Linked DNA regions of Homo sapiens. The protein of the gene in region 1 purifies or fractionates together with the protein of each later gene. This does not show direct contact. Each region holds a gene or a part of one and is shown in the gene's direction. Other genes may lie near its edges. The genes, in order: STK38L, LIMCH1, DSG1, PFKP, CALU, PEX14 and SEC13.

What was found.
Region 2: the proteins of STK38L (region 1) and LIMCH1 purify together in Homo sapiens (affinity purification with mass spectrometry; one large-scale study listed by BioGRID and IntAct). This does not show direct contact.
Region 3: the proteins of STK38L (region 1) and DSG1 purify together in Homo sapiens (affinity purification with mass spectrometry, with the first as the bait; one large-scale study listed by BioGRID). This does not show direct contact.
Region 4: the proteins of STK38L (region 1) and PFKP purify together in Homo sapiens (pull-down; one large-scale study listed by IntAct). This does not show direct contact.
Region 5: the proteins of STK38L (region 1) and CALU purify together in Homo sapiens (pull-down; one large-scale study listed by IntAct). This does not show direct contact.
Region 6: the proteins of STK38L (region 1) and PEX14 purify together in Homo sapiens (affinity purification with mass spectrometry; one large-scale study listed by BioGRID and IntAct). This does not show direct contact.
Region 7: the proteins of STK38L (region 1) and SEC13 purify together in Homo sapiens (pull-down; one large-scale study listed by IntAct). This does not show direct contact.

The regions. Positions count from the first base shown.
Region 1 is NC_000012.12:27,313,786-27,317,285, forward strand, and holds part of STK38L (serine/threonine-protein kinase 38-like), read left to right. Parts: intron 1-718; coding exon 719-873; intron 874-1,229; coding exon 1,230-1,332; intron 1,333-1,503; coding exon 1,504-1,565; intron 1,566-3,500. UniProt on the Homo sapiens protein: Involved in the regulation of structural processes in differentiating and mature neuronal cells.
Region 2 is NC_000004.12:41,646,157-41,649,656, forward strand, and holds part of LIMCH1 (LIM and calponin homology domains-containing protein 1), read left to right. Parts: coding exon 1-124; intron 125-328; coding exon 329-737; intron 738-3,500.
Region 3 is NC_000018.10:31,356,160-31,359,746, forward strand, and holds the end of DSG1 (desmoglein-1 preproprotein), read left to right. Parts: 3' UTR 1-3,087; downstream 3,088-3,587. UniProt on the Homo sapiens protein: Component of intercellular desmosome junctions. Involved in the interaction of plaque proteins and intermediate filaments mediating cell-cell adhesion.
Region 4 is NC_000010.11:3,074,048-3,077,547, forward strand, and holds part of PFKP (ATP-dependent 6-phosphofructokinase, platelet type), read left to right. Parts: intron 1-3,500. UniProt on the Homo sapiens protein: Catalyzes the phosphorylation of D-fructose 6-phosphate to fructose 1,6-bisphosphate by ATP, the first committing step of glycolysis.
Region 5 is NC_000007.14:128,763,359-128,766,858, forward strand, and holds part of CALU (calumenin isoform a precursor), read left to right. Parts: intron 1-3,500. UniProt on the Homo sapiens protein: Involved in regulation of vitamin K-dependent carboxylation of multiple N-terminal glutamate residues. Seems to inhibit gamma-carboxylase GGCX. Binds 7 calcium ions with a low affinity.
Region 6 is NC_000001.11:10,477,950-10,481,449, forward strand, and holds part of PEX14 (peroxisomal membrane protein PEX14), read left to right. Parts: intron 1-3,500. UniProt on the Homo sapiens protein: Component of the PEX13-PEX14 docking complex, a translocon channel that specifically mediates the import of peroxisomal cargo proteins bound to PEX5 receptor.
Region 7 is NC_000003.12:10,307,613-10,311,112, reverse strand, and holds part of SEC13 (protein SEC13 homolog), read left to right. Parts: intron 1-3,500. UniProt on the Homo sapiens protein: Functions as a component of the nuclear pore complex (NPC) and the COPII coat. At the endoplasmic reticulum, SEC13 is involved in the biogenesis of COPII-coated vesicles.

The DNA.
Region 1 (3,500 bases):
AACTTTTAAAATTCCTTGAAAATAAAAGAATGTCTGCAGGTGCCTTTTTTAGTGGGATAATGTCCCACTAAACTCTAAAAGAATATATTTCGTTTCCAGGTGCACTTATTCTGATTTTTTTGCAGTTTGACATTTTCCTCAGCAGTTAATTCTAGAAGTTGAGTGGTAGATATTACTTCATTATCAGCTCTTTTGTGATTTGATTTCACATGGTCTCTGCCTTAAAACCATTAAAAGTCATGAAACTTCTGCTATGCAATAGCACTTTTATTTGTCCCAAGATGTGGTTAGAAATATACTGGGTAGATCATAAAATGCAAACTCAGGAAAGCTAGCTGGGCATGGTGGCTCATGCCTGTAATCCCAGTACTTTGGGAGGCCAAGGCAGGCAGATAGCTTGAAACCAGGAGTTTGAGACCAGCCTGGCCAACATGGCAAAACCCCATCTCTACTAAAAATACAAAAATTAGCTGGGTGTGGTGGTGCACACCTGTAATCTCAGCTACTTGGGTGGCTGAGGCATGAAAACTGTTTGAACCCAGGAGGCGGAGGTTGCAGTGAGCCATGATCACACCACTGCACTCCAACCCAGGCAACAGAGTGAGACTCTGTCTCCAAAAAAAAAAAAAAAAAAGTAAAAAAAGCAGGAAAGCTTTTACAAGGTATTCCACCTTTGAGGCATTTTCAATAATAATATATTTGACTATCCTTTATTTAGGTGACATGATGACATTGCTAATGAAGAAAGACACCTTGACAGAAGAGGAAACACAGTTCTACATTTCAGAGACTGTTCTGGCAATAGATGCGATCCACCAGTTGGGTTTCATCCATCGGGATATTAAGCCAGACAACCTTTTATTGGATGCCAAGGCATGTGAATAAACTGGTGAATTACTAGGCTGTTGATTATTTTTTAGAGCAGTAGGGCTGATTTTGTGAATGGAAATCAGCAACTGCAATTTAGAATATTGCTAAACAACATTATATGATAAGGTACTAGGAGAGGACTTGGGAATTAAATGACAACAGGGAATATGGCTCTCTTTTTATCTCCCTCCATTTTCTACTTTTAAAAATCATCATCAGATACTTAAAATTTTACATTTTACGTGTATAAATCCCAAGCTAAGAATTTTTATTATAATTGCCATTTAATAGAGGAGTTTATAACAAGGCTTTTTGTTTTCAAAGTTAATATGATCTAATTTTACTGGATTTTTTTTTAGGGTCATGTAAAATTATCTGATTTTGGTTTATGTACGGGATTAAAGAAAGCTCACAGGACTGAATTTTATAGAAATCTCACACACAACCCACCAAGTGACTTCTGTAAGTTTGGTTGTTGTTTTTCTTCTTTCCCCTGGTTAAGATACTGTAGAGAACAGAAGGTTCTTTCCCTTTCCCCACTCCTTAATCCACTGTGTTTTAGATGTATATGTATTTTCTTTTTGTGGAGAGCATTTTTCCCTCGTGATTACAATTCCATATTGTTGAAATTAGCATTTCAGAACATGAACTCAAAGAGGAAAGCAGAAACTTGGAAGAAGAACAGGAGACAACTGGTGAGTCAACCAGTTTTTAAGAGAATTTTATGCCTTGGTTCTAAAATCTTACCTGGTTTTAACTTGATTATTTTTATCTTTATAATAATTAGTATTTACTTCATAACAATGGTAGCGCTTGCTCTGGGATCACACAGTTTTCTTAGTTTCTCTGTTAAGTTTCCTTGCCTGTAAAGCAAAGTGTTGGTTTTTACTTTGTAACTTTAGAGTAGTTTACTGAGCATACCTACAAGTAAGCTGTTTACTAGTAATTAGCACTTTAAATAAAACTCACTGAGGTGAATGCAATTGTAATGAATGCCTTGTGATTTCCATTTTTCCATTTTTCATAACTGTGTTACAAATCCTGATACAACAAATATCAATCAGCAAGTAAGGTGGTTGTGAGTTTCTAAAAACTTCTTTATAGACAAAGTAAACAGGAAGTTTGGGATGTAAACAGTGTTACAATAAAACAGATAAAATTTGAAAAAGCTGGCTTTGCCACAGATAAATTTAATTACTCCTTTAATATAGAATTACATTATTTTTAACCCCATACTATTTCCTTTCTATAACTGAGCAAATAGAAGAATTGCTTCCCCTTTCTCCTCTTTCCCTTTGTCCTGTTAACATGGTCCATCAACAGTCTACAGGTTAAGAATGTGCCTTAGGATTTTCTTTTTCTCATTTCTTATAAAATGCCTGGCACATACGGACACTCTATAAATACTTGTTCAACCAAATGATGAAAGGAAAACTAATTCAGCATTCCCTCAGGAAAGTAAACAGACTGAAAAATAATAGGCTAATACCCTCTAAAACCAAATAAAATGACCTTTGCATTATTGAGCTTATTATCTCATTAACCTAAGTAACTGCAAAAACTTGTAAAACATTTCAGTATTTTTAAATGTATTGAGTTACACATTAAGGAGAAAAACTTTGTTCTACTTTTAAAATGTGTCCATTTTAGATCAGGTTTTGCAATTGAGAATAATTGCAATATTCCCTATTTTTAAAGGGGAAAAACTGAATACTGCTCAAAATTATGGTGGGGGAATTCTGTACCCCCCTATTTACAAAATATTCATGGGTGATTACTCAGGTGTGTGTTTTATTATTCTCATGGCCAGTAGTTGCCAAGCCTTAGATCGAGTGTTTCCCAAGGGAGAAGTAGAGAGGACTCAGTGTTTGGGGCAGGAAATTTCTTTAGCACCTGGATCCCCTGCCCTGTAAATGCCAGTTATGTCACTGAGATGACAAAATCTGTGGTCCTACATTTTGCCATGGCCCCAAGAGTACTACCCCTGGTTGAGAATTACTGCCTTGTAGAAATCATTTTTGTAAGATTTTATATGAATTAAGAATTAAAAACTGCATAGCTTCCTAAAGGATAAGCAGTACCCTGGAATTACATTTATAATGAAAATACCTCATGCTTATTTTTGTAGTTTGTAGTTTACAAAACACATGCCGTTTATTGTTTCATCTTCATATCAACTCTATTAGGGCAGGTATTATTATTCTAGTTTTATGTAAGCAGAAGCTGAGCCTCAGAGAAATTGAATAATTTGCCCAAGAACACATTAGTAGTGAGTGGGGAAGCCAGGTCTTCTAGGTTCAACTTTTTCATTCTTTTTGAAATAGACTGAAGGCTATATATATAAATAACTTAACTGAGCTTCTTGTGGGGGCAGAAATGATATATTCTTATAAAATGCCTGGCACATATGGACACTCTATAAATATTTGTTCAACTAAGTGATGAAAGGAAAACTAATTCAGCATTCCCTCAGGAAAGTAAATAGACTGAAAAATAGTAGTCTATAACATATTATCTGACTCACTACCTACCACTAAGCCTTGCACATGATAAACATGCAAAATAAATACAAGTGAAAATTTAACTCCTCTATATATTGCTTTTTCCAGTAGTAAGCCATCCTCAGATAG
Region 2 (3,500 bases), on another chromosome or scaffold:
TTTCTCAGGACTTAATCAAGAAAGAGGAAGAAAGGAAAAAAATGGAGAAGTTACTGGCTGGAGAAGATGGGACAAGTGAACGAAGGAAAAGCATCAAAACCTACAGAGAAATTGTTCAAGAAAAGTGAGTTCTTTCTGTTGTCGTTTTTAATGTACAATATTATCTAGGTGTTTTTTTTTTCTAAAAATTATTGGCTGTCACAAAGGTTCTGATAGTAACATTTTATATTCCCTGTACTATCTCTTCAGTGCTACCTTCGTTTCTACCAAGGTCTTCTTTGCAATTTTCATTAGTTGACTTTGTTATTGCTTCTCCCATGTCCTTTAGAGAGCGGAGAGAGAGAGAGCTGCATGAAGCATATAAGAACGCTCGGTCCCAGGAGGAGGCAGAGGGGATCCTTCAACAGTACATTGAGAGGTTCACCATCAGTGAGGCTGTTCTCGAACGCTTGGAGATGCCAAAAATTCTGGAAAGAAGCCATTCAACAGAGCCAAATTTATCCTCCTTCCTGAATGACCCCAATCCCATGAAATACCTGCGGCAACAGTCACTGCCTCCACCCAAATTCACTGCCACTGTTGAAACCACCATTGCTCGTGCCAGTGTTCTGGATACCAGCATGTCAGCAGGCAGTGGGTCTCCAAGCAAAACTGTCACTCCCAAAGCAGTGCCTATGCTGACACCCAAGCCTTACTCCCAGCCCAAAAATTCTCAAGATGTTCTGAAGACCTTTAAGGTAGGACAAGTTCCTTAAGAGTAGAACCAAAGCTGAACTCCAGGGAGTGGATGGAAAGAAGCATCATGACTCAAGAAAATGTCATTCTTTTTACCATACAAAAGAAAAATGTGTTGACATTTACAGCTGTGAAAGTCATAGGTCTCTGGAGATTTGGTTTGTAAATGCTTCAGGGACAGCTGTTTCCCTCAATTGCTGTTGTTAATACAGATGGACTCCTATAAGACTGATAGTGGAGTCGTCTCCATGAGCAAGGTCTATTTTCTAGTTTGATATAATGGCATGATTTCTCTGTACTAGTGGTAAAAACCCTAATTTAGTAATACCCTAGTATTTCTAGGTATCAGGAGGTATGGCAGACTCCTCAAAACAAAATTTTATTTGCTTTTGGTTCAAATAGAAGTATATGCAGCTACCTCTCTTTTAGGAAGAAATTGGCATTCAGCATCCATTTGACATTGTAGCATCCAAAAAGATTTTACAATTGATAAAAATACAAGGAACACATGGGAACATGGGACATACTTGGTCCTCAAATGAGACAGGTTTTTTAAACAAGTGGAAAGAAACTGGGTTGTTTTGCTAATGAGTGTGTAAAATAGTGTTCCAGACTGAAGAACTTGTGGAAACCAAACATCTTTTCGCTTCCTCAAATTCAAGTACTTTCTCTTATATCAGGAGGAAGCACTCATCCTTTGTCTTAAGTTCTTTTGACTTGTAAAGAAAAATCAGTTCCCCTTGTCCTTGCACTCAATGAGTTTGTAATAAACAGAGGTGGAATGCATCACTTGGAGATGTGACCATTAGATAGAAAAGTTTTCGTAACTGATTGAGCAGTGTGATGCCACGTAGCTTCCTTGCTGTATTTCAAAGAGAACAAAACCACACTTTCTGACTTTTGCTGAAATAACTCTGAATGTATCTCAAAAATCTCTATCTTAGGCTTTGATAGAACAAAAATGTCCAGACTGTCTCATCTGGATCACATTGAGCTGTTTGTCCCCTTATAAGGGCAGGGGCCATGTCTCTGTCATTCATGGCTTCATCCTGAGAGCCTGGCACAGGTGCCCAGGACAGAGTAGGCACTCAGCAAGTGCTCCTTAAATAAATAAGTGAATTTTTCCTGAGAAGATGAGCTACTAATCATATGGACTCACACACACACAGATAGACACACACATGCTCATGTGTGCTCAGTGGTCCACCTAAGTGTTTCAGAAGCTTTCCTTCACCTAGGGCCTATGATAATGAATGGCTATGGTATTTCCTGAAGGAAGATTCTATGTTGAGGTGGCCCAGAATAGGATAGAGAATACATTTATTTAACTGGATTTCCAAGGCATCTGACCAAACATTCTAGATGTCCACTTTCCCTCCTTTATCTAAATAGTGCAAAGTGATCGTTTAAACAGAAGGATTAGCATAAATGATTTTATGGCAGAACTTCAGCTCTGAGAAAACTCTGTTCTTCACCATGGCGGCAAAGTGGAGCAAGGTGGTATGGCGGCCTCAGGAAGCACTTCCATGGAGGGGGTTATTAGAGAATTTGAGCAGAGGCCCTCTTAGAGCTGGAGATTACTCCTCATCACTCACTAGTGGGGGTCCCCTGCCTCATTGTAGGCCTCACTGGCTAGTATTTCTACTGATGGCCTACAGTTCCATTACTGAGTGCATGGACAGCAACTTTGGTCAAAGGTCAAAGTAACATGCAAATCAGACCGTTGTTACCAGCTAATAATGCCAGGACAGAAGCTAAGGGGTAGGGGTGTGTGTGTGTGTGTGTGTGTGTGTGTGTGTGTGTGTGTGTCTTCTTGGAGGGCAGGGCAGGGAATACAGGCCCCGTTGTTTTTCCAGTACAACAGAATTAAGAATAAAGGAAGATCAAGAGAAATAGTTTAAGGCAGTGTTTTTCAAACTGAAAGTTACCACCCGTTGCTAGGTTATAAAATCAGTTTAGTGGTTTGAAGCCAATATAAAAAAAAAAGAACTAGAATAGAATATAATAAAAAAACATAGTGTGTCACACAATGAAGGCAAAATTGCTTGGGGCAACTTCTGTTTCAGTTATATTTATGTGTGTGTGTGTGTGCTGAGTTGTGATTTAAATTTCTTTTTATGGGTAACAAATAATAGAGTAAAAAGACCAGTGGCTTAAGGTAAATAAACTATAACTAATATCCAGCCTTCCATTATTTCTTTTAAAAGATTTTAAAAGGCCTAATGAGGCTGGGCGAGGTGGCTCACACCTGTAATGCCAGCACTTTGGGAGGCCGAGGCAGGCAGATCACTTGAGACCAGGAGTTCGAGACCAGTCTGGACAACATGATGAAACCCTGTCTCTACTAAAAATACAAAAATTAACCAGCCATGTTGGCATACGCCTGTAATCCCATCTACTTGGGAGGCTGAGGCATGAGAATTGCTTGAACCAGGAAGGTGGAGGCTGCAGTGAGCTGAGATTACACCACTCCACTCCAGCCTGGGTGACAGAGTGAGACCCCGTCTCAAAAAATAAATAAATACATAAATAAGAGGCCTAATGATAATAATGGCTAATAGTTAAGCACTTAAAATGTGTCAGGTACTGTTCTAAATTCTGTACATTTGATAATCCATAAAATCTCCATAACAGCACTATGAGGAAGATACTGTTACTTTAAATTTTGCATCAGAGCACAGAGAATAGGAAACCTGTTGAAGATTCCATGCCTGTTAAATGGTAGAGCCAGGTTTCAATCAGGTCACCTAACTGCACAGCTCCCT
Region 3 (3,587 bases), on another chromosome or scaffold:
TGACTTAAGAAAGCAAAACTCACTAAGTTTACTTCTCGAATTGAAGCAAGTGAGGCCTGACATGGTTGTCATCACTAGTGGCAAATGACCTTCCAAGTAAGCAGATGGGAACTGAATTGTGTTTTCAGGTTTTGTTTTTAGTAGGTGATATTCATTCGTATCCAGCTCTTTATTACATAGCTCTGAAGTTAAAATGATTTACATAGGCCGAGCTGTGGACAAAAAAAAAAGAAGCAGCAGCTTGTAGTATGCTTAAGCTTTGGGGAATTTTTTTTTAAGGGGATCTAAAAAAATGTTTTTAGAACATGTAAAATGTTTAATGGTGAAAGTTGGAAAAGAATTCTTCTGTAAAGTAATACCATGCTAATTATTCGCTTTTAGTAAGTAAAGTAGTGGTTGCTTTAGCAAACCTCTGCTGCCATTTTGCAGGAATCAACCAGGAACCTTTAGCAGAATTGACAATATGGTGTTGATAAGCATGAAATAATAATAGAAACCTATTCTGCTAGTTTATCTCACCCTCTAATTTTTCTCACTAGCATAAATTTTAAATTCCTGATTTGATTTGTCAATAAGATCTTGGCTTATATATGCTGATTTATAGGTAGTGTCCAAATTATATAGTATAACATATTTTTCTAGTTTCAAAATTTAGTAATGTCCTATTTATGATATATCATTTCTGTGTGTTTGCTATGTAGTATTACCCAATTAAAAATCTCTAAAAAGAATTAAAGCATTCTAAGAAAAAGGTAAATTTACTATTGCATGGTACAGAAATTTTTTCTTTCTTAAATACAATGTTACTATAAGCTCACTAAAATGAAACTCTATATGACAAAATAAAATTAGAAAAAAATTTGCCCTGGAGTTGTGAATTATATACAACTTTTAAAGAATTTACCCCAATTACTCAAATTTCCCAGGAAATTACAAAGCCAAAGAATATTCAACTTCCTCCACTGGTCAAAAGAGGATAGGAGTGAATTACTGAACCTAGAGCTATTTTGCTCTGTAACAACAGATAAGGCTAATATTTTAAAAGCCACAGTATACATCTTCTTTTAACTCTGTAGAATATGTAAAATTTTGATAGTCTGTAGTATGCTAAATGCAGAAGTATAAATAAAGTCATTCAAAGGGAGTCTTTTCTTTTTCTGACACTTAGGGGGCCACATTAAGGATGGGTAATCTTTCCAGGAATAAAGTCAAAAGGTATTTATTAAGACATACTTGAGTATGCCTGGGTCCAGGAGTTTTAAGGAATAGAAATAAGTATTAATGAATTAATTAAGTAATTTATTAAAGGGAATGGTAGCTGACCACAGGAAACTTGCTTACTGTTTTGATATGAAATATCATCACAAGCTTTTCTTAAGACATCTGATATCTTCCAGAGATATTTTTTAGGTTGTCTTGCAAACAACAAAATCACTGTCTTTAATAACTGTTGCTGTCAAAATCCATTGGTTGTTAAGATCCCCCCAATTTAGTTACATCTGAACTCCTAAACACTGTTAAACGATGGGAAAAACAAGAAAAAACATGGCCATTTGAGTCATTGAGTCATCTATCTTTCTAGGAAGATACTTTCTAACCAAACTTTTCTTCCAGGATTGCAAATTGATGGGAAAAACAAGAAAAACTGAAGTATTAGTCACCTATCTTTCTGGGAAGATACTTTCCAACTAATTTTTTCTTCCAGGATTGCACACTGATTTTCCATTTAGTCCTAAATTTTAAAATTCCCTTTTCAAGACATCAACGATTTTAGTAGTTATTTAAAGGCATGTCATTTTTCAATGAAGAAGTTTTGGGCAGAACTTCATTCTTCTTCTTAGATGTTTACTCTAGATCATATACATCATGTCATAGACCAAGAAGAGATATGGAAATTATTTTATAAGTGAATACTATAATTAGGATTCAAGCTGAGTTTCAGATCAACTTGCTCTTAACAAAAGGAAAAAGAAATAGTAATTTAATACTATGTATGTATGGTTTGAAAACAAACCACAATGTTTATAAAATATCTATCTGACTGTCTAAAGAGGTAATCTTTAGGAGCAAAAATCAGTGTATTATAAATACTTTACCATTTAATATCAACCAAAATACCATCTCAAGCTAATTTTGACACTGAATTACAGATATATCTGCTACATATTATTTACTTCTAAGCATGTTGTCTGATGTAATTGCATTTGCACTGAAAAATTAAAAGAAAAAGTACATATTTAGGGTTATTTATATATCTTCATCTAGACATCTGTTCTACATTTGTGTATAAAGTTTTTAGCATCATAATTTTTATTCAAGAAAATGTTCTGACAAAATTTTAATTATATGTCTTCAAAAATTACATTTTTTACTCTAGTAAGTAGATGTTTTTAGTTATCTGGCAATTTATTTCTGAATTTATACCAATGTTTGATTGTCATGGTACAAAATATATGACACCCTTTAACTTTTGCTGGAGTTGAAAGGCATTATAATCTTTAGCATAAATGGCCATGACTATTTTGGAAAGACATTTAAGACCCAAAGCAAACTTTTAAAAGTATTTGCCACATTTTCCCATGCCTATTTCATAAATTCCAACTTTTTTTTTTACAATTTCTGGATTTTTAAGACCCATTTCACATTGCACTAGGATACAGCAGTCCACAGTAGAGTGCTACTCTCCTTGAAATCAAATCTGTCTTCCACTTCCGGATTATTCAATTTATGTTAGGACAAATCTTGACTAGATCAACCTGTTTTCCATCAGATAATTTTAAAACAATGTGTAATCTTGTTTGTCTACATTCTCTCCCCAGTTTAGCTGTATTTGAATTACTAAATGCTTTATCGTCAAACTGTACCTAGTCTAACTTATTTTTCTTTTGCTGTCGTTTTACAAGCATTTTAAAATTCTAATATTCATCTCTGGTGGTGTTTAACACAAGGTTCTCTTATTCAAGTTTCAATATAAAAGTTTTTGGATTATTTGGGTGCTAGTTTCTTGCTTGGTTATCTGTTCGTTTTTTTAAGTTGATTTGTAATTTCCAAAGAGTTATGCATACAGCAATAAAATTATTAATATGCCTCCCTTATCTTTTCTGAATTGTAAGCAAGGGGGAGGTTTTAGACTGTAAAACCAAAGTTATCAAATCTAGTTATTATCATCCTGTATTGGAGGAGATACAATTCTTTTATTTTCACAATGTTAAAATATGTTTTCATTCTCCATTTCCTAGCTATCTTTTTTTAATGTGTACTGAGGAACCTACTCTCTGGACCACTAATTATAGATGCTAGAGCCCAGCCTTGACCAGGTGGTTAGCCCCACAAATGAACAGATGATAAAAAGCTGCATTTTTAGTTCTTATTTAATACTTGTAGCATCTTTATACTTTTACCTTTCTTTCTTTCATACTCTGCATTTTTATTTTTGCCTACACCAGCATTTTATTTCTTTTAAAATGACTTTTCTTCTTTTTTGCCCTTTAAATCATACCCTTTCATCTTTACTGGGATGCATCTCCTTTTGTTCTCCAATGCCACTTCCAGACTATTATCAACTTCATCTTGCACAAAATCTTACC
Region 4 (3,500 bases), on another chromosome or scaffold:
CAGGCTGGTCTCGAACTCCTGACCTCAAGTGATCCACCTGCCTTGGCCTCCCAAAGTGCTGGTATTACAGGCTGGAGCCACTGCACCCAGCCTTATTTCTGTGTTTCTGTAATCATTGTGCATGTTAACAGACTGCCTTGGGTGAGTCAGGACAGGATTTTGGCAAAAGAACCAGGCCCTTTCTGCCTGGAGCTGTCACTCCTGTGGTGAGGTGCGGGTACGACGTGCCTGTAGCCTGACCTGAGAGGAAAAGCTCCTGTCTTATGAAAGGGCCCAGGGGAACCTCTGGTTGGGGCCCTTTGACCTGACCTGACAGTGAGGGAGGAGTCCGTAGAGGAGAGTGGCCCAGTGGAGGACTTTGGCTTTGCCTTGGGTGAACTGGGAAGCAGGTGGAGGGAAGCAGACTGACTGTCTCCGATAAGGGTGGCTTTGTGGAGAGGAGAGGAGGGGAGGGGAGGCCACAAGTTTAGGGTATCACAAGGAGCAGGCCACAGATGGAAGGTTATGGGGTGGGGCACGTGGCAGGGCAGCCCTGTGTCCACAGACACATCCCGCCAAGGGGACCCAGAGACTTGAGTGTGTCAGGGCTTGGGGTGAATGGGCACTCAGCTGTTACAGCTGGAAGGTAGAGCATGTGAGCTCCAACAGACACAGGCAGGTGGGGGTTAAAGGAGAATCTTCATAGCAGTGCTTAGAATAGCAAAAAGTGGGAAAACCAGCAAAAAACTATCAATAGGAGATTAATTAATTCCATTATGGCACCTGGAATGTGCCGAGACCAGCTCAGTCGGGGAGACCGTAACCCAGCGGCGCTAGAGGAATTAAAGACACACACACACAAATAGAGGTGTGAAGTGGGAAATCCGTGGTCTCACAGCCTTCAGAGCCGAGAGCCCAGAACAGAGATTTACCCACGTGTTTATTAACAGCAAGCCAGTCATCAGCATTGTTTCTACAGATATCAAATTAACTAAAAGTATCCCTTATGGGAAATGAAGGGATGGGCCAAATTAAAGGAATAGGTTGGGCTAGTTAACTGCAGCAGGAGCATGTCCTTAAGGCACATATCTCATGCTACTGCTTGTGGCTTAAGAATGCCTTTAAGCAGTTTTCCACCCTGGGTGGGCCAGGTGCTCCTTGCCCTCATTCCCATAAACCCACAACCTTCCAGCCTGGGCGTTAGGGCCGTTATGAACGTGTCACAGTGCTGCAGAGATTTTGTTTATGGCCAGTTTTAGGGTCAGTTTATGGCCAGATTTGGGGGGGCCTGCTCCCAACAGAATGGAAGGAATTTTTGTCAGCGTTTAATAAGGAGCTTTGTGCTGGTCGAAAGTCAAGAGGTACACAGTATACTCAAGGGCAGTATTGAAGAGCCGATTCCAGAGCGGCTTCCCTCTGGAGCCAGTGGGGCAGTTTGCAAATCCAGGCAGATCAGCTTCTTGGAGGTTTCTCCAACGGGAGAATCTCCCAAGAGTGAGGCTTGCATGTGGGTGGCCTGTGTTATATATGCAATTTTAAATGATCTAGTTGCCGCATTAAAGAAAGGCGGGGCAGGGGGCCGGGAGTGGGGGACTCTGGGTGCCAAGACTCAACATCTGTAATCCCAGCCCTTCAGGAGCCCAAGGCAGGTGGATCACTTGAGCCCAGGAGTTTGAGGCCAGCCTGGGCAACATGGCAAGACCTAGTCTCTACAAAAAATACAAAACAATTAGTCAGGCGTGGCGGTGCACACCTACAGTCCCAGCCCCGTGGGAGATTGAGGTGGGAGGATTGCCTGAGCCCAGGAGTTGGAGGCCGCAGTGAGCTGTGACTGCACCAGTTCACTCCAGCCTGGGCAACAGAGTGAGACCCTATCGCAAAAAAAAAAAAAAAAAAAAGTAGTGAACCCGGGAAGCGGAGCTTGCAGTGAGCCGAGATCGCGCCACTGCAGTCCGCAGTCCGGCCTGGGCGACAGAGCGAGACTCCGTCTCAAAAAAAAAAAAAAAAAAAAAAAGTAAAAACCGGTAAAAGCAAAAAACTATGTTTTATATTCAATCCACTATTTTGATAACAATCAATTATTGTAGATTATTCATATTTTACACTGTTTTCCGTAGTAAGTCTTTGAAACCCAGTGTGTAAAGAAGCTTAAAGCACATCTCCATGTGGACGGGACGCACGTGGCCAGCGGCTCCTCTGAGGGACAGTGTGGTCACGCAATGGGTGGCGTGTGCTGCCTGTATTTAGAAGGTCCCCATGTGGGTGTTTTTGCGAAGGCTCTGAGGGATGTGCAGGGGAGGGCCGACACTGTCCCAGCCACGCAGAGGACCCTGGAATGCAGCATGCTGCCGCCGCGCCCCCGCCCCAGCCCCTCTGCTACCTGAGCTCTTTCCCAGATGTCCATTTGGCTAAACTCCCTCAACTTCTTCCCTTTCCTTCTTTCTCCAAACGTCACTCTCAGGCAGGTCTGCAGGCTCTCCGATTGTCAATGGCAGCCCCTCCCTGTCCTCCACACCCTCAACACCCCCCACCCCGCTTGTTATTTTTCTCCTTAGCACTTACGGCCATCCATCCATGGGCATCATGCATTTGTTCACTGTGTTTCTTGCTTTCGGGTCTCTCCTGATCGGAACAAGCTCTTCCAGGGCCAGAGGCTTCCCATCTTGTCACTGATGCATCCACACAGAGCCCAGCAGAGGTGGCACTTGGGGCACCCGAGCTGGACAGTGGGTTGGTGGTTGAGTGAAGAGCCCTACAGATTTATCTCAAGCCCTCCCCTGACCCTACTAGAAGACACGGTGGTCTGCACAGTCCAGGAGGTCAGAGAGGCCCCCCAGTTCGATGACTTTGAACTGGCAGGGGTGGGGAGGGAACAGCACCTTGACAGAATCTGCCTTTGGCATCCCACCTCCCCATGCCTACATAATCCCTACATTATCAAAGGAAAGACCCCTAGAAGGAACTTTGGCAGCAGTAGTGAGATCAGCGCGGTGTAAGCTCATTTTCTAACAAAGCAGCGGGAGGAGTCGGCAAACTGACTTTATTTCTCAAAAAGAATTTATGCATTGAAATTAACAAGTGAGTGATCAGGAGTGTGGGAAAATTCAGGAAAAGTGGCTCAGTGCTGTGAGAGAGGGCGAGGCAGGGAGCTTTATTACTCCAGACAATGGAGGAGGTAAAAGATAGACCCAGATTATTTCATTAGAGTTCATCTATTCTTTACTTTTTTTTTTTCTTTTTTTTTTTTTTTTTTTGAGATGGAATCTCACTCTGTCACCAGGCTGGAGTGTAGTGGCGCAATCTCGGCTCACTGCAACCTCCACCTCCCGGGTTCAAGCGATTCTCCTGCCTCAGCCTCCCAAGTAGCTGGGACTGCAGGCGCTCACCACCATGCCCGGCTAATTTTTTTTTTTGTATTTTTAGTAGAGATGGGGTTTCACCCTGTTAGCCAGGATGGTCTCGATCTCCTGACCTCGTGATCCGCCCACCTTGGCCTCCCAAAGTGCTGGGATTACAGGCAT
Region 5 (3,500 bases), on another chromosome or scaffold:
TCTCTACTAAAAATATAAAAATTAGCCAGGTGTGGTGGCATGTGCCTGTGTAATCCCAGCTACTCAGGAGGCTGAGGCAGGAGAATCGCTTGAACCCAGGAGGCGGAGGTTGCAGTGAGCCGAGATCGCGCCACTGCACTCCAGCCTGGGCGACAGAGCAAGACTCTGTCTCAAAAAAATAAAGTAAAATAAATAAAAATAGAAATTCAAATAGTTTATCATGGTCACCTAGCTTTAAAATGCGCTTACGTTGTAGTGTATTGTGTATTCTAGCTTCCTTTAAAACCATATCTTTTAAGCATGTGTCTATTTCCTAATTCAGAACTTTCCAATCTGTATCCTGTGAGTAAGTCTTCTTGGCTTTCAGGACAGCTAGGGCAGGAACCTGATCCAGTGGACCGTACAAACTACATTTTCTGAATGTGCTGTAGCATGGGAAAAAATTGGCAAGTCCTGCTGTGAGGAATTTCTCTTGTGAGTTTAAGACAGAGGAGTACTTCTACCCTTAACCCTCAAGGTCAGGAAAATGGCAGCACTGACTAAATAATTACCTTTGCTTAGAACTTGCAGGAACTATTTAGATTTCTCTTTAGGTGTTTTCCCATACCTTACATGCAATGCAGGTACACTTAACTTAGATGTCGTATAACTCAAGCATTTTCAGACTTGTTCACTTAAATAACTCCTGAAAGAATTTGACCAACAGCATTCCCTTATGTGTTTTAAAGTTGGCATCTGAAATATTTAATTAAGAAATTTAAACAGTTGTAAAGAATAGTCTCTGTTGGGCCGGATGCCGTAGCTCATTCCTGTAATCCCAGAACTTTGGGAGGCTGAGGCAGGTGAATCACTTGAGCCCAGGAGTTTGAGAACAACCTGGACAACATGGCGCAACCCTGTCTCTACAAAAAATACAAAAAAAAAGAAAAAATTAGCCAGGCATGGTGGCGTGTGCCTGTAGTCCCAGCAACTCAGGAGGATCACTTGAGCCTGAGGGTTTGAGGTTGCAGTGCACCGTTATTGTACCACTGCACTCCAGCCTGGGCAACAGAGCAAGACCCTGTCTCAGAAGAAAAAAGAATAATCTCTGTTGGTGATAAGCATTGACATTTTGAAAGTAATTCGGAAAGAAATCTATAAAATTTAAATACAAGATACCATAGCAACTTCTTACCTGCCGTCTTTCATATGAATAATTTGGACACGACAACTTTAAAAAGATAATCAAGAAATTTAAATTCAGTCTGGGTATTAGATGATACCAAGGAATTGATTTTGTAAAATATGAAAGTGGCATTGTGGGTATATAAGAAAATATCCGTAATTTTTTACATTTCATAATAGTTAAAAAGGAAATGTTTCTTTGGTACTTTTTTTTTTTTAGTTATGGCGTTTGGTTAGCAACAATGTGACCATCACTTAATTGCCCTTTTTTTTGTTTAAATTTATAGGGATTTGGGGATATTTATACTACTTATCAGTCACCACATGATATTGTCTTAAAAAAATAAATGAATAAACTGTTAACCAACTTGGACATTTTACACGCATCCTGTTTCTTCTTCTTCTTCTTTTTTAAAAAGACAAGAGTCTCATTCTGTTGCCCATGTTGGTGTGCAGTGGCACAATCACAGCAGCCTCGATCTCCAAGGTGGGGAGATCAAGTGATCCTCTCACCTCAGCTGGGACCACAGAAGAGCACCACCACACCCAGCTGATTTTTTTTATTATTATTCTTATAGACATGGGTCTCCCTACATTGCCCAGGCTGGTCTGGAAATCCTGGGCTCAAGAGCTCTACCTGCCTTGGCCTCCCAAAGTGCTGGGATTACAGACATCAGCCACCCGACCTCCTGTTTCTTTTTTTTCTTTTTCTTTTTGAGACAGGGTCTCACTCTGTCACCTAGGCTGGAGTGCAGTGGCATGATCATGGTTCATTGCAGCCTCGATCTGCTAGGCTCAAGCCATCCTCCTGCCTCAGCCTCCCGAGTAGCTGGGACTGTAGGTGCATGCTGCCATGCCTGGCTAATTTTTGTATTTCTTGTAGGGATTTTGCCATGTTGTCCAGGCTGATCTCAAACTCACAAGTCAGCCTTCTATTTGTTAGATTCATTTGCAGTTTACTTCCTCAACAGAATTATATTCTGACATATTTTATCTTGAAGCCTTAGTCACTTTGACATTCTTATTTGCAAGAACATTGTGTATGTAAATTGAAATATGGAAAATGGTGTTCTGTGATATGGCTCTTAAGTGTTTTTAGAGTCTTCTGTGTTAAGTTACTATTACAATTATTAATACACAATTGAACAAAATAACATTTATTACAGACGTTTTATGTTTATATATTTTTAAATGCATTTCTTTGACACATTTTTATTCAAATAGTTTCATATCCATGGATGACAATTACTTATCCCTAGAGTGAAATGGGATTCAGCACCAATTCCTAATTTTTATTTTTTAGAGGAAGTACTAACAGACCTTGTTTACATTAGTAAATAAGTTGATGGAAGATTTGTCATAGCAATATTGCTTAGTTCTTGGAACTCCTTTTGAGTTACATGCCAGAAATCATGTAATCTATCATCAAAAATTATGGGTTTTGTTTGTTTCAAGGTGGAGTCTCTCTCTCTCACCCAGGCTGTAGTACACAGGCACGGTCTCGGCTCATTGCAACCTCTGCCTCTGGGGTTCAAGCGATTCTCCTGCCTCAGCCTCCCCAGTAGCTGGAGATTACAGGTGTGGGCCAGCACGCCCGGCTAATTTTATTTTTTATTTTTAGTAGAGACGGGGTTTCACCATGTTGGCCATGCTGGTCTCAAACTCCTGACCTCAAGTGATCCACCCGCCTCAGCCTCCCAAAGTGCTGGGATTACAGGCATGAGCCACTGCACCCAGCCCAAAAATTATGTTTAATGATCCCTTAGCTAAAACTCAATTAGGCCATTTTTCAAGGTTTTTTTTTTTAAAGCAAAGAATTTAAAACCTTTTGACATGCAAACGAATTTATTCATTTTTTTTCAGGCATTTGCATTCTCAAGACTGACACTAGTATTTCTTTTTCTTTTTTTTTTTTTTTTTTTTTGAGACGGAGTCTTGCTCTGTCGCCCAGGCTAGAGTGCAGTGATATGATCTCGGCTCACTGCAACCTCTGCCTCCTGGGTTCAAGTGATTCTTTTGCCTCAGCCTCTCGAGTAGCTGGGATTACAGGCACGCACCACCATGCTCAGCTAATTTTTGTATTTTTAGTAGAGATGGGGTTTTGCCATTTTGGCCAGGCTGGTCTCAAATTCCTGACCTCAGGTGATCTGGTCTCAAACTCCGACCTCAGGTGATCTGCCTGCCTAGGCCTCCCAAAGTGCTGGAATTACAGGTGTGAGCCACCACGCCCATCCAGACACTAGTATTTCTAATTGTTTCTTTTTCATTATCTTGGAGCTTTTTACACTCTAGTTTCAAAATGGTTGAAAATATGCCTTTCTTTTATAAAGTGGGAC
Region 6 (3,500 bases), on another chromosome or scaffold:
GCGATCTCGGCTTACTGCAACCTCCGCCTCCCAGGTTCAAGTGATTCTCCTGCCTCAGCCTCCCAAGTAGCTGGGGCTACAGGTATGCACCACCAGGCCTGGCTAATTTTTTTTTTTAAGTAGAAATGGGGTTTCACCATATTGGACAAGCTGGTCTCAAACTCCTGACCTCAGGTAACCTGCCCACCTCGGCCTCCCAAAGAGCTTGGTATTACAGGCGTGAGCCACTGCACCTGGCCTTAAATGAGTTATTTATGTAAAAATGCCAGAACAGTGCCTGAAACAATGTGTTGTCTATTATTATTATTATTCAATTTAATAAGCTCTGAGTTTTCACTCACAAATGGATCTAAACCTTTCTTCAAGTTCTATTACGACATCTTTTGGGGTATGATTTTTCATGTGTTGACTACTTGTCTAGTAAAGTTCTTTTATTCAGAAGTAATTCCTTAAAATTTCAAGGAATGCCCTGAATGCTAGTGTTTATTCTAGCTGTCCTTCATGACTTTTGCATTTCAGGAACATACTTACTTTTTCATAATGGTATAGTCTTTTTAGTCTATCCTCAAGACGACTTGCTGGAATTTCATTTATTGCTTCCTTTGTTCTGTGTTCCCCACATTGCTCTGTTTTATGTGGTTGATCTATTGATTGAGACAGGGTCTCACTCTGTCACCAGAGTGCGGTGGTGTGATCATGGCTCACTGCATCCTTGCCCGCCCAGGCTCAGGCAATCCTTTCGTCTCAGCCTCCTGAGTAACCGGGACTACAGGTGTGCACCACCATGCCTGGCTAATGTATTTTTTTTTTTTTTGAGACAGAGTCTCGCTCTGTCGCCCAGGCTGGAGTGCAGTGGTGCGATCTCAACTCACTGCAAGCTCCGCCTCTCGGGTTCGAACCATTCTCCTGCCTCAGCCTCCAGAGTAGCTGGGACTACAGGCACCTGCCACCACGCCCGGCTATTTTTTTTTTATTTCATTTTTAGTAGAGACGATGTTTCACCGTATTAGCCAGGATGGTCTCGATCTCCTGACCTCGTGATCCGCCCACCTCGGCCTCCCAAAGTGCTGGGATTACAGGTGTGAGCCACTGTGCCTGGCCTGGCTAATGTATTTTTAAAACAATTTTTGTAGTGGTGAGTTCCTGGCTGGGCGTGATGGCTCATACCTGTAATCTTAGCACTTTGGGAGGCTGAGTTGGGAGGATCGCTTGAGGCCAGGAGTTTGAGACCAGCCTTTGCAATATAGGGAGACCTCGTTCCTACTGAAAATTAAAAAATTAGCCAGGCATGGTAGTGCTTGCCTGTGGTTCCAGCTACTTTGGAGGCTGAGGTGAGAGCATCACTTGGGCCTGGGAGGTTGAGGCTGCAGTGAGCGGTGATTGTGCCATTGCCCTCCAGCCTGGGTGAGAGAGCAATACCCTGTTTGGGGACGGGGGAAGAGACAGAGAGAGAGAAAGTGCTGAGATTATAAGCATGAGCCACCACGCCCAGCCAGCATGGCTGATCTCTCATTGAAGTCCTTTCTAGTGTGTACACGTTGGAGCCCGTAGGAATGAGAAACGTTATCTCTATTTCCCAACTTTCCTACTAGCTTTTCTTCCTTCGCTGAACAGCAGAGGCATGGTTCAATCTGATTACTTCACAGTTACTGAGTATCGAGTATTATTGCAGAAGGTAGATTTCCTATCTGTGGAGGTTCACTGGGTACAGTAAATTTTGCATTGAGAGGCTACAGAAGCAGGCAGGGAGAAGAGCAGAGTGAAAGAGTGGAAGAGCATGGCTTCGCATCCTGGCAGGTTTTGGTGGAACTTCATCACTCACAACTATTGGACTTATCACTCCACCTTTCTGAGTATGTTTTCTCCTCTGTAAAACGAGAGCAATAATAGTTACCCTTAAAGCTGGGTGTGGTGGTGCATGTCTGTAGTTCCAGCTACTCAGGAGACTGAGGCTGGAGGATTGCTTGAGCCCAGGAGTTGGAGTCTGTAGTGCACGATGATCACATATGTGAATAAACCCCTGTACTCCAGCCTGGGCAACAGAGTGCAACCCTATCACTTAAAAAATAAATAAATAAAATAAAAAATAATTACCCTTTTAGTGTTGACTGAAATCACAGATGTGAAGAGCACCTGCTGCATAGTAAGTGCTCAGAGTTAGTTTTCTTCTCCCAGTCTTTACATGTAGTTTTGAGAGTCTGTTGAACTCTTGAATAACAGCAGGTCAGACAAGGTATTTGCCCTCTCAATGTTTTTTTTTTTTGTTTTGTTTTGTTTTTGAGATGGAGTCTCCCTCTGTTGCCCAGGCTGGAGTACAGTGGCTCAATCTCGGCTCACTGCAACCTCAGCCTCCCAGGTTCAAGCGGTTCTCCTGCTTCACCTGCCTCAGCCTCCTGAGTAGCTGAGACTACAGGTGTGTGCCACTACGCCTGGCTAACTTTTTTTTTTTTTTTTTTTTTTTTGAGACGGAGTCTTGCTCTGTCTCCCGATCTGGAGTACAGTGGCACAATCTCGGCTCACTGCAACCTCTGCCTCCTGGGTTCAAGCGATTCTCCTGTCTCAGCCTCCTGAGTAGCTGGGACTACAGGTGCCCGCCACCATGCCCAGCTAATTTTTTTGTATTTTTAGTAGAGATGGGGTTTTGCCATGTTGGCCAGGCTAGTCTTGAATGCTTGACCTCAGGTGATCCACCTGCCTCGGCCTCCCACAGTGTTGGGATTACAGGTGTGAGCCTGGCACCTGGCCTCAACTTTTTATTTTGAAAAATTTCTCACGTATAGAAAAGTTGAAAGGATAATACTGAGAACTTCTGTAAAATTCCCATAAAAACTTAACCAAGATGCACTGTTCACATTTTGCTGAATTTGCTTTATGTCAGTCTCTCTCTCTCTTTCTCTCTCTCTCTCTCTCTATATATATATTTTTTTTTTTGGAAGGATTTGTGGTAAGTTACAGACATCAAGGATATTTCATCCTAGAATATTTCACCTTATCTCTCATAAGAGTAAGGTTATTCCCCTGTATAACCACAATATCATTATCACACAAGAAATTTAAGTGTTGATAAATAGTATTATTTAAAACAGAATCTGCACTCAAATTTTCACACTTAAAAAAAATCAGAATCTAGTGAAGAAACAGAGATTGCATTGATTTGTCTCTTTAGTCTTTTTTTTTTTTCCTTTCCTTCCTTTTTTTTTTTGTTTGAGACAGAGTCTTGCTCTGTTGCCCAGGCTGGAGTGCAGTGGTGCAATCTTGGCTCACTACAACCTCCGCTTCCTGGGTTCAAGCAATTCTCCTGTCTCAGCTTCCCAAGTAGCTGGAATTACAGGTGCCCGCCACCATGCCTGGCTAATTTTTTTGTATTTTTAATAGAGACAGGGTTTTGCCATGTTGGCCGGGATGGTCTCGAACCCCTGACCTCAAGTGATCCACCCACCTCGGCCTCCCACAGTGCTGGGAGCCACCGCGTCCAGCCTTAAACTTTGTTTGTTTGTTTG
Region 7 (3,500 bases), on another chromosome or scaffold:
GGAGAGAGCCCACGCAGACACAGGGAGAACACACAGACTCCACACAGGCAGGGGCCCCCGCTGGGAGTTGTTTTTTTTTTTTTAATCTTGTCAGCATTATAATGAAATGAAATTGAGGATCAGTTGTACATAGAATGAGACAATCTGTGGTCTTTTGTGACTGGCTTCTCCTACTTACTATAATGAGTTCAAGTTTCATCCATATCATAGCGTGTATCAGCACTCCATTCCTTTTTATGGCTGGATAATACTCCATTGTGAATATAGACATTTTGTTTATCCATTCATCAGATGATGGATGTTCTCGGCCTTATGAATAATGCTGCTATGAACATTTGCAGATAAGTTTTTGCATGAACATATGTTTTTAATTCTCTTGGGTCTATACCTAGGTGTGAAATTGCTGAGTCATATGGTAATTCTGTGTTTAACTTTTTGAGGAATTGCTAAACTGTTTTGCAAAGTAACTGTACCCTTTTACATTCCCATCAGCAGTGTATGAGGGTTCTAATTTCTCCACATCCTCACTAACATATGTCTGTCATTTTGGTTACAGCTGTCCTAGTGAATGTGAGGTGGTATCTTATTGTGATTTTTTGGGTTTGTTTTGTTCTGTTTTTTTGAGACGGAGGCTTGCTCTGTCACCCAGGCTGGAGTGCAGTGACATGATCTCGGCTCACTGCAACCCCCGCCTCCCAGGTTCAAGCAATTCTCATGCCTCAGCCTCTTGAGCAGCTGGAATTACAGGCACACGCCACAACACCCGGCTAATTTTTGTATTTGTAGTAGAGACAGGGTTTCACCATTTTGCCCAGGTTGGTCTCAAACTCCTGGCCTCAAGTGATCCGCCCACCTCAGCCTCCCAAAGTGCTGGGATTACAGGTGTAAGCCACCACACCCGGCCCTTATTGTGATTTTTATTTGCATTTTGCTAATCAAAGATGATGGTGAGCATCTTCTGGGGGCCTTTGGAGAAATGACCAGGAGGGGTTTGCACTCTGTAACACCGAGTGAGTGGAAGCGGCCCACAATAAGAAAGGCTGAAGGGGCGGGAAGAAATCTGAGCTCTGTGATCCTCCAGAGCAAGCCTCTGGGACAGGGCCCCTCAGGAGGAAGAACTGCAGGAAATGAAATCACAGTTGAGCTGGATAGGGACACAGGAAAGGAAGGATGAGATGTAGACCAATGTGGGGAAGAGGAACAAAGACAGGAACTCCTGAAAGCCATCTCCCACGTTTTTTAACACCACACAGAAACAAGGGAGAGTTCTGAGCTTAGACTTTCCTGAGCCTTTCTTATCAGGAAAACTCATCTCACCTAAAAATAACAGAAAAGTATTTGAAGTGAAATTGCATACAGTTGTTATATAAGAAACAAGAATATGCAAAATAACCTCCCTGCGGACAATGAGAGCACATTAGAAAGACATGCCCACATAACCGAGCCAAGCTGTAACCTGCTATTTCAAATCAAGCCAGGTGACATTCTAACAATACAAAACAAGAGAGAATAGTGTAAATCAACTTTTTAAAAATCAGAAATAAGGTGACAGAACTCAGGAAAGAATTAGAATTAAAAATCATTTCAGAAGTAAAGAAAGACTAAGACGAAATGCAAGTGTCGATGAACACAGCAGATCCTGCCTGAAAAGGATAAACAGTGTGAAAAAGGAAACATTTCAAGAGCAAAAAAATGAAGAGGTAAAAAGGTTTTGACCAAAAGTAAAGACAGGCAGAAAGGTCAGACATACGAATACCAGGAGTCCCTGGAAAGGAAAACAGAATACCAAAAAGTAATCCAGAAAACTTTCTTAAAATTAAAAAACAAAGATTTGAAACTTGAGATTGAGAGATCATACCCCACACTTAACAATATCAGCCGGGCGCAGTGGCTCAGCCTGTAATCCCAGCACTTTGGGATGCTGAGGTGGGCGGATCACCTGAAGTCAGGAGTTTAAGACCAGCCTGACCAACATGGCGAAACCCCGTCTCTACTAAAAATACAAAAATTAGCCAGACGTGGTGGCGCACACCTGTAATCTCAGCTACTCGGAAGGCTGAGGCAAGAGAATTGCTTGAACCCGGGAGTCAGAGGTTGCAGAGAGCCAAGATCACGCCATTATAATCCAGCCTGGGCGACAAAGCAAGACTTGTCTCAAAAAAAAAAAAAAAAAAAAAAATCAAGGCCAGGCGTGATGGCTCAGCCTGTAATCCTAGCACTTTGGGAGATCGAGGTGAACTCCTGTTTGAGGCCAGGAGTTCAAGACCAACCTGGCCAACATAGTGAGACCCCGTCTCTAAAAAAAAAAAAAAAAAAAAAAATTCAACTCAGCATCACCAACAAAAAGATATAATTCTAGTAAAATTATTAGACTTTAAAGAAAATTTTGGGGGGTTCTAGAGAAAAGGAACCTTGTGACTTAAAGGGGAAAGACAATTAGATTATTGTCAGACTCTTCAATAGTAAGGATTGGTGCAGAAGAAAAAAGAATAACATGTTTAAAATACTCCAGGAAAGAAAGTGTGAGCCAAGGATTTATAACCAGGAAAATTGACTTTGAAGTTCACACAAAGACTTATACACAAAAGGTTATAGCAGCTTTAATAGCCAAAAACTGGAAATAGTCCACATGTCCATCAACAGGTAAATGATAAGTTGTGATATATCCATACTTTGGAAATACTGCGAGCAATAAAAAGAAATGACTGCAATAAAAAGAAATGACTTAACAAAATAAGATGAAGAATAAATTTCAAAATAATTATGCTGAGTGAAAAAAAGAAGAAAAAGGACACACTGTGATTCCACTGCTGTAATATCTAGGAAATGCAGCTGAGCAGGCCCATGGTCACCACGATTGGGGGCTGCAGGATGGGGAGATGGATTACCAGGGGATCCGAGGAAACTTTTGGGAATGATGGGCATGTTCCTTATCTTGATTGAGGTGATGTGATGATCCTACAGGATATATTTTTGTCAAAATTCACCAAATCATGCACTTGATATGCAGTTTATGTCAATTATACTATATCAAAGCTGTTTTTAAAATTAGCTTTTGAGTGTAAAGGATATGAACTATTATCAATATGCAAGAATTCAGGGACTATTGTTTCTAGGAGCCCTTCCTGAGAAATCTACTAGAGGATACAAGTCACACAACTAAAATGACTACAAAGACTTCAGCATAAATATATAGTTACTTGTAGAGAACTAAGACGAAATGAGGGTTAAAAGGCTGGGCCCAGGGCAGGCACAGTGGCTCACACCTGTAATCCCAGCACTTTGGGAGGCTGAGGCAGGCGGATCACCTGAGCTCAGGAGTTCAAGACCAGCCTGGCCAACATGGCAAAGCCCCATGATGTGGTTTGGCTGTGTCCCCACCCAAATCTCATTTTGAATGCCCATGTGTTGTAGGGGGTAACCAGTGGGAGTTGAGTCATGGGAGGAGGTCTTTTCCATGCTGTTCTCTTGATAGTGAATAAGTCTCACAAGATCTGATG